Linked DNA regions of Homo sapiens: region 2 is reported to be linked to region 1. Evidence: microRNA targets listed by miRTarBase, many of them from high-throughput screens and not tested one by one. Region 1 holds a microRNA gene; the other region holds the end of a gene's coding sequence.
Evidence for each region. The annotated mature microRNA hsa-miR-3194-3p reads AGCUCUGCUGCUCACUGGCAGU and lies in region 1 at 1,517-1,538, shown strand. An mRNA with a match to its seed (bases 2 to 7 or 8) in the 3' UTR can be bound and repressed. Matches are read on the target gene's strand: a 7mer-m8 pairs with bases 2 to 8, a 7mer-A1 pairs with bases 2 to 7 and ends in A, and an 8mer does both.

Region 1 (3,000 bases):
CCGTGCAGTTTTATACCCTGCTCTTTTTACTCAGCGTGTCTTCAGGGATTGTGATGGCCATACCATTCGCCATTGCATGAATGTGCCATTCTACATTTTAACTCTTCTAGGTCATTTTGACAGAAAATGAGATTATCTCCCACCCTCAATCCTTTTTTTAAAATTACTTTTTTACATAAGGAAGGAAATTTTTAAAACTTTTTGCTATTATCAAGAAGGGAGGCCAAACAGCACAGTGATAAAGCATGCATACTCTGGCCCTGGATATCTTGGGTTCAAATTCTGGGTTTGTTATCTGCTTGCTTGGTGATCCGAGGCATATTACCTATCCGTTAAAATTTCTTACCCCATAAAGTTGTCATGGAGGTTAAATGAGCTAATACATGTCACGTAATTATAATAGTGCCAAGTACAGCATAAGCCAATTAATATTGGCTACTTGTATTTTTATTATAAGTAGTTCTGCAGTGAATCAGCTTATACTTCTAGGATTAATTAATCTTGTACATGAATCTATATGTATATCTTTTTAGTTTATTTAGGGTTTATTCCCAGCAGTGGAATTTTGGATAGTCATTCTGAGGACTTTAAATACATATTGCTAAATTACCTTCCAGAAATCTACAAATTGAAGTTGCCATCATGTCAGTCATAGTTTCACCCCCATCCCAGAAATGCCATTTTTTTAAATTAAAAAGGAATCATTGTGGAATTGGTACTTCTTTCTACTTTGCATTTCCTTGCTCTGAGACGCATAATGTTTTGTTTATTCACCACGTGTATTCTTCCTTTGGTGTACTATCGGTGTCTTTTTCAGTGGGTATGTGGTAGAAAAGATGCTGATCTGAAGTAGGAAAATATCAGATTAAGCAATAATTAATGAAACAAATGTGTTGTTAGAAGGAAATTAGCTCAAATAACTTGGGACACTTATTTTGGATACTAGAACCAATTTTCCTTTTCCTTAACAGACATGATTTCAGTAGGTTACTTCAAAGGGGTGTTGATGTTTGTCTATTTGTTTATTGTCCTTAGAACAATCCGAGAATATAACAGGTGAGTTGTCCAGTTGGAGGGATTGTGCACTGTACAAGGGCACCTCCTCTGAGGGCTGCCATTCAAATTGGATACATCACCAGTTTACACGTTAGTAAGACAACTTCTGGCAGGGGGAAGCAGACTGTCTTAGGCAAAGAGTGCTTCTTCCAGTCTCGCACAAATCATCCTTCTGGGATGGGCTGGACATGTGACCGGGGTGTGACAACTGCATTCTCACAGTTGGAAGCATAACAAGAGGCAGAATTTATTTTAAAAGGGTTTGATGACGCCTTTGCGAAAAATAACAAAAAAGGTATTAAGTAAGGCTGTGGCAGTGGGGAAGGGAGATGCAGGGATGGGTCGGGAGTGGTTTAGAAGGCAGATGTCACTGAGGTTTGATGGGACGTAGTGGTGTAGAGAGGCATTAAGAACGCAGGTGGCAGGGCCAGCCACCAGGAGGGCTGCGTGCCACCCGGGCAGCTCTGCTGCTCACTGGCAGTGTCACCTGCGGAAACTCTCCATCATCTATCCCCTGAAAAGCAGGGACAGTGACAGTGCCTACCCACAAAGGTAAGGTCTGAATGAATTAGAGCAAGTGGGCTTAGCACCGGAAGTGCTCGGTAAGGGGCAGGGGCTGCTGCTGTTTTTCTGGAGCTGCTGTGGATGGGGAAGGGGAAGAGGTTGAGTGTCGAGATTGTTTTGTTCACGTGGTGCACTTGGCCAGCTGAGATTTAGCACACAGGAGAGGAGGTCTGTGTGGGGATGAGGTTGGGCAGGGAGGACGGGTTTCATTTTGGAAGTGGAAGCGTTGAGTCTCATGTACCCATGGGCCTTCTTGGATGAACCATGATCTCACCTCTGTGGAAAGGCAAGAGATTGGTGGGTATGTGGCCACGTGGTCTAGACTAAGAAACCAGATCCTGGCTGCAGATGTTGTCATGGGAGCTGTCAGCAATGAGATCTGAGGTGAAGTCCTGGGAATTGGCTCCGACCTCCCAGGATGGCCTCCAGTGGGAGAAGGGGAGGCTTAGAGAACTGAGAGCCACATCCCTTAAAGGTGGCAGAGGAGGAGCTGTCACAGCAGGAGGAGGAGAACCAGGGGAGTCTGGTGCCCTGGAGACCAGGGGAAGGAGACTTGGGAAGGGTCAGCAGAGGCAGTGCTATGAAGGTCACAGAGCCCGAGGTCAGCCTGAGAGTCCAGTGATTGGGGGGCCTCTGGTGATTTGAATCACACGTACCCAGGTGGCAGTGAGTTGAGGAGTGAGCTGAGGAGTAGCGTTGCTTGAGGGATCAGAGATGATGAAGGTAAAGTCTGCTCTAGGCAAGAAGACTCTGCACCAGCAGTCCCCAACCTTTTTGGCACCAGGGACCAGTTGCATGGAAGACAGTTCTTTTCAAGGGTTGGGGAGATGGGCTGATGGTTTCAGGATGATTCAAGCACATTACATTTATTGTGTACCTTATTTTTATGATTATTACATTGTAATATACAATAAAATAATTATACAACTCACCATCATGTAGAATCACTGGGAGCCCTGAGCTTGTTTTCCTGCAACTAGGTAGTCCCATCTGGGGGTTGACGGGAGACAGTAACGGATGATCAGGCATTAGACTCTCCTAAGGCGTGCACAACCTAGATCCCTGGCAAGCGCAGTTTACAGTAGGGTTCATGCTCCTGTGAGAATGTAATGGCAGGCTCATCTGACAGGAGGCAGCGCTCAGGCGGTAATGCAAGTGATGGGGAGTGGCTGTCAACACAGATGAAGCTTTGCTCTCTCGCCCGCCACCCACTTACTGCTGTGCGCCTAGTACCGGTCTGTGGTCCGGGATTGAAGACCCCTGGTCTATACCACATTTTTAGCCTCAGCATTATTGACAGTTTGGCCCAGATAATGACTTGGCAGGGGCGCTGTCCTGGGCACTGCAGGATGTTCAGCAGCATCCCTGACCTCCACCCAC
Region 2 (3,000 bases), not on the chromosome of region 1:
GAGGGCCTGTCCAACCAAAGACCTTTTGATCTACAAATTTTTTTTTTTTTTTCGAGACGAAGTCTCGCTGTGTCACCCAGGCTGGAGTGCAGTGGCGCAATCTCAGCTCAGTGTAACCTCTGCTTCCCATGTTCAAGAGATTCTCCTGCCTCAGCTTCTTGAGTAGCTGGGATTACAGGCACAAGTCACCACACCCAGCTAATTTTTGTATTTTTTGGTAGAGATGGGGTTTCTCTGTATTGGCCAGGCTGGTCGCGAACTCCTGGCCTCAAGTGATCAGCCTGCCTCTGCCTCCCGACGTGCTGGGATTACAGATGCGAGCCACCGCACCCAGCCAATTTACAAATATTTTGAAAATGCTACTTATGAATGGCCCAATAATTTTACTTCTAGGAGTTTATCTTAAGGAAAAAATAAAAAATTCAGATGAAACCTTATCCCCCTAGATGTTTATCAAGACACTATTTTTTTTTTCCAGGGGGTGCGATCTTGCTCTGTTGCCCAGGCTGGAATACAGTGGTGTGATCATGGCTCACTGCAGCTGGAACCTCCCAGGCTCCAGCAATCCTCCCACCTCCCAAGTAGCTGGGATCACAGGCCCGCGCCACCGCATATGCCCAGCTATTTGTATTTTTAGTAGAGACAGGGTTTTGCCATGTTGCCCAGGCTGGTCTCGAACTCCTGGACTCAAGCAATCCTCCCGCCTCAGCGCCTGGCCCAAGACACTTTTTTTGTTTTTTTTTGAGATGGAGTCTTGCTCTGTCACCCAGGCTGGAGTGCAATGGCACGATCTCGGCTCACCGCAACGTCTGCCTCCTGGGTTCAAGTGATTCTCCTGCCTTAGCCTCCCAAGTAGCTGGGATTACAGGCACCCATTACCATGCCTGGCTAATCCAAGACACTATTTATAAGAAAACCTAGAACCAGTCTACACATCCAATAGTGAGGAAATGATTAGATGAATTACAGTACATCCACAAGATGGATTACTAAACAGACATTGGCATGATTTATGAAGAGTGTTTAATGTTTACAAAGAGCTTTTAATGATGTGGAAGATGGTGGTATAATAAGTAGGAAAAAACTGGTTATAAATGATACCACAATATGATGTCAACGATGAAAAAATGCACAAAAAAAGACTTTTTTAAAACGTCGAAACATCAGAGTGGTCTCTAGTTGGAGGAATAATTTTTTTTTTTTTTAAGACAAACTTCTTCATACTTTTTGTACTTTTAAAATGATTTACTATGTACATGGATTACTTCCATAATCAAGAAAAAAAGTAAAAACTTTTAAAATGCTGTGAACGTGGTTTCCATTTTTATTTTCTCTGATGGGTGACTGCACATCAGCATCTTGAGTTATGCTAACTACTTAGGCTGGTCACGACACACACACACATACAGAGAAGTCACACAGGCTGTACCGGGCTGGCTGTTGCAAATGTACATGAATTACACGGGTTGAAGTTGTTTGGCAGCTAGTTAACATATGCCACCCAATGACGGGACACAATCTGGTCACACGCTGCCTCTCCTGCCTGTTGCTGTTCTTTACAAAGGTCCGTGTGTCGGGCTGGCAAAGTGGCATCCTGCTGGCATCTCTGTGGTGGCCCCGGAATGGTGGAGTGCCCAGGTCAGCATCTACTCTGGGTCCCATTCTCAACTGCTCTGGCCTTGACATCAGAGCTTCCGGTTCCCTGCTGGCTCTTCTGCACACTGGATCCATGCCAGTCCAGGCCCCCTCCAGGCACACACCTGAGGCAGACTGAGAGCACAATGGACGCTGTCCTGATGTGAACTGTGCCCAGACACAGGATGGGGGGAAGCGGGAGATGTGACCACGACACCACACACAAGCTCGATCTTTACAGATGGGCCCTCTGGGACTGCTATATGGGTGGTGCCCGAGAGACACGGGGGCCATGTGGAGCCCTCCAGGGCACAGTTGCTGGGAGAGGACAGACGGGAGGGGACCTGTGCCCATGTGCCTAGCTCTGAGAGCAGAGCTAGGAGGGTGGATGGGGAACGTGTCCGACATGGTGCTAGATTGTTGAGAAGTCACGACTACACACAGCTGGGGAGCATGCCCCTCTCCCAGTTCATTCACACGGTGGGTTAGATACAGCTAGAGAGAAGTGGAGATATGCTTTTTTGAGGGAGGACCTTTCCTGGTGTTTGGATAAACAGTGAGACAGACTCCTGGGTTCGGCATGCTCTGGGGAGGACCATGCGACGGTGAGAGACTCCCTACTGCTACACTCTGTACAGGGTGGCCAGGCCCGCCTGCCGTGCCCATGGCCTCTGGTGACAGTCACGGGCTTGCCTTCAACCCCTTCTGCCTTGGAGAGCTCTTGGGCCCCGGTGAAATGGGGGCTATAAAGACAAGAGGGTGGGGGGGGGTCCCCATGGCCCAGGGCACCCCACGTGGGGGCTACATGATGTTGCACTGGGTGGCCCCGCAACAATCCTTGATCAGTGCCAGCCCCGTCTTGGCCACCGTGGGCTTGCTAGGTGGGGGCTCTGCTTTCTTCTCTGCCCGGGAGCCTGCAGCAAGATGTGGGCACAGGGAGAGGGGGAGAAAGGAACAGAGAGAGAGAGGTGAGGTGAGCAGAGCCCTGACCATCTGCAGCCCAGCCCCACTGCAACCCCTGGCCAGGTCTTGTTCCAGGCCTTGTTCAGGTGGTATGGAGAGCTGATGCACATTTCATATGATCCTCAGCTGGTCCTCATTTTATAGTCCTCATTTTATATGGTCCTCAATGCTCAGCTTCCAACCCTAACTTTCAGCCCTTCTCCTAGTCAGCTGTTATCATCATTGTACCTGCCAAGCCTAGCACAGGGCCTGACATCCAAGAAGTATTTGGTAAATAGATAAATGGGAAATTTTGTTCAAGTCACTTCAATCTGAGGGCTCATATTTTTCAATTTTTGAAAATGCTCATACATTGTCTTTTCAGATACCTCCACCTCCCATTCTCTGTTTTATCTCCTAGAA

Region 2: miRTarBase lists BMERB1 as a target of hsa-miR-3194-3p. Seed matches in the 3' UTR shown: 7mer-A1 at 2,217-2,223 and 7mer-A1 at 1,670-1,676.

What each region holds. Positions count from the first base shown.
Region 1 is chr20:51,451,450-51,454,449 of GRCh38, reverse strand. It overlaps MIR3194 (microRNA 3194), which reads left to right and starts at 1,473; the gene lies at 1,473-1,545. The region is part of intron 6 of NFATC2 (nuclear factor of activated T cells 2); the gene reads left to right.
Region 2 is chr16:15,586,266-15,589,265 of GRCh38, reverse strand. It overlaps BMERB1 (bMERB domain containing 1), which reads right to left. Exons shown (of 6, transcript NM_033201.3): 6 at 1,007-2,549. The coding sequence ends at 2,437. MPV17L-BMERB1 (MPV17L-BMERB1 readthrough) reads right to left here. Exons shown (of 6, transcript NM_001414674.1): 6 at 1,007-2,549. The coding sequence ends at 2,437. Among named protein-coding and RNA genes, the nearest start is that of MIR6506, 23 kb to the left of the region's middle. RefSeq lists an enhancer at 1,681-2,182.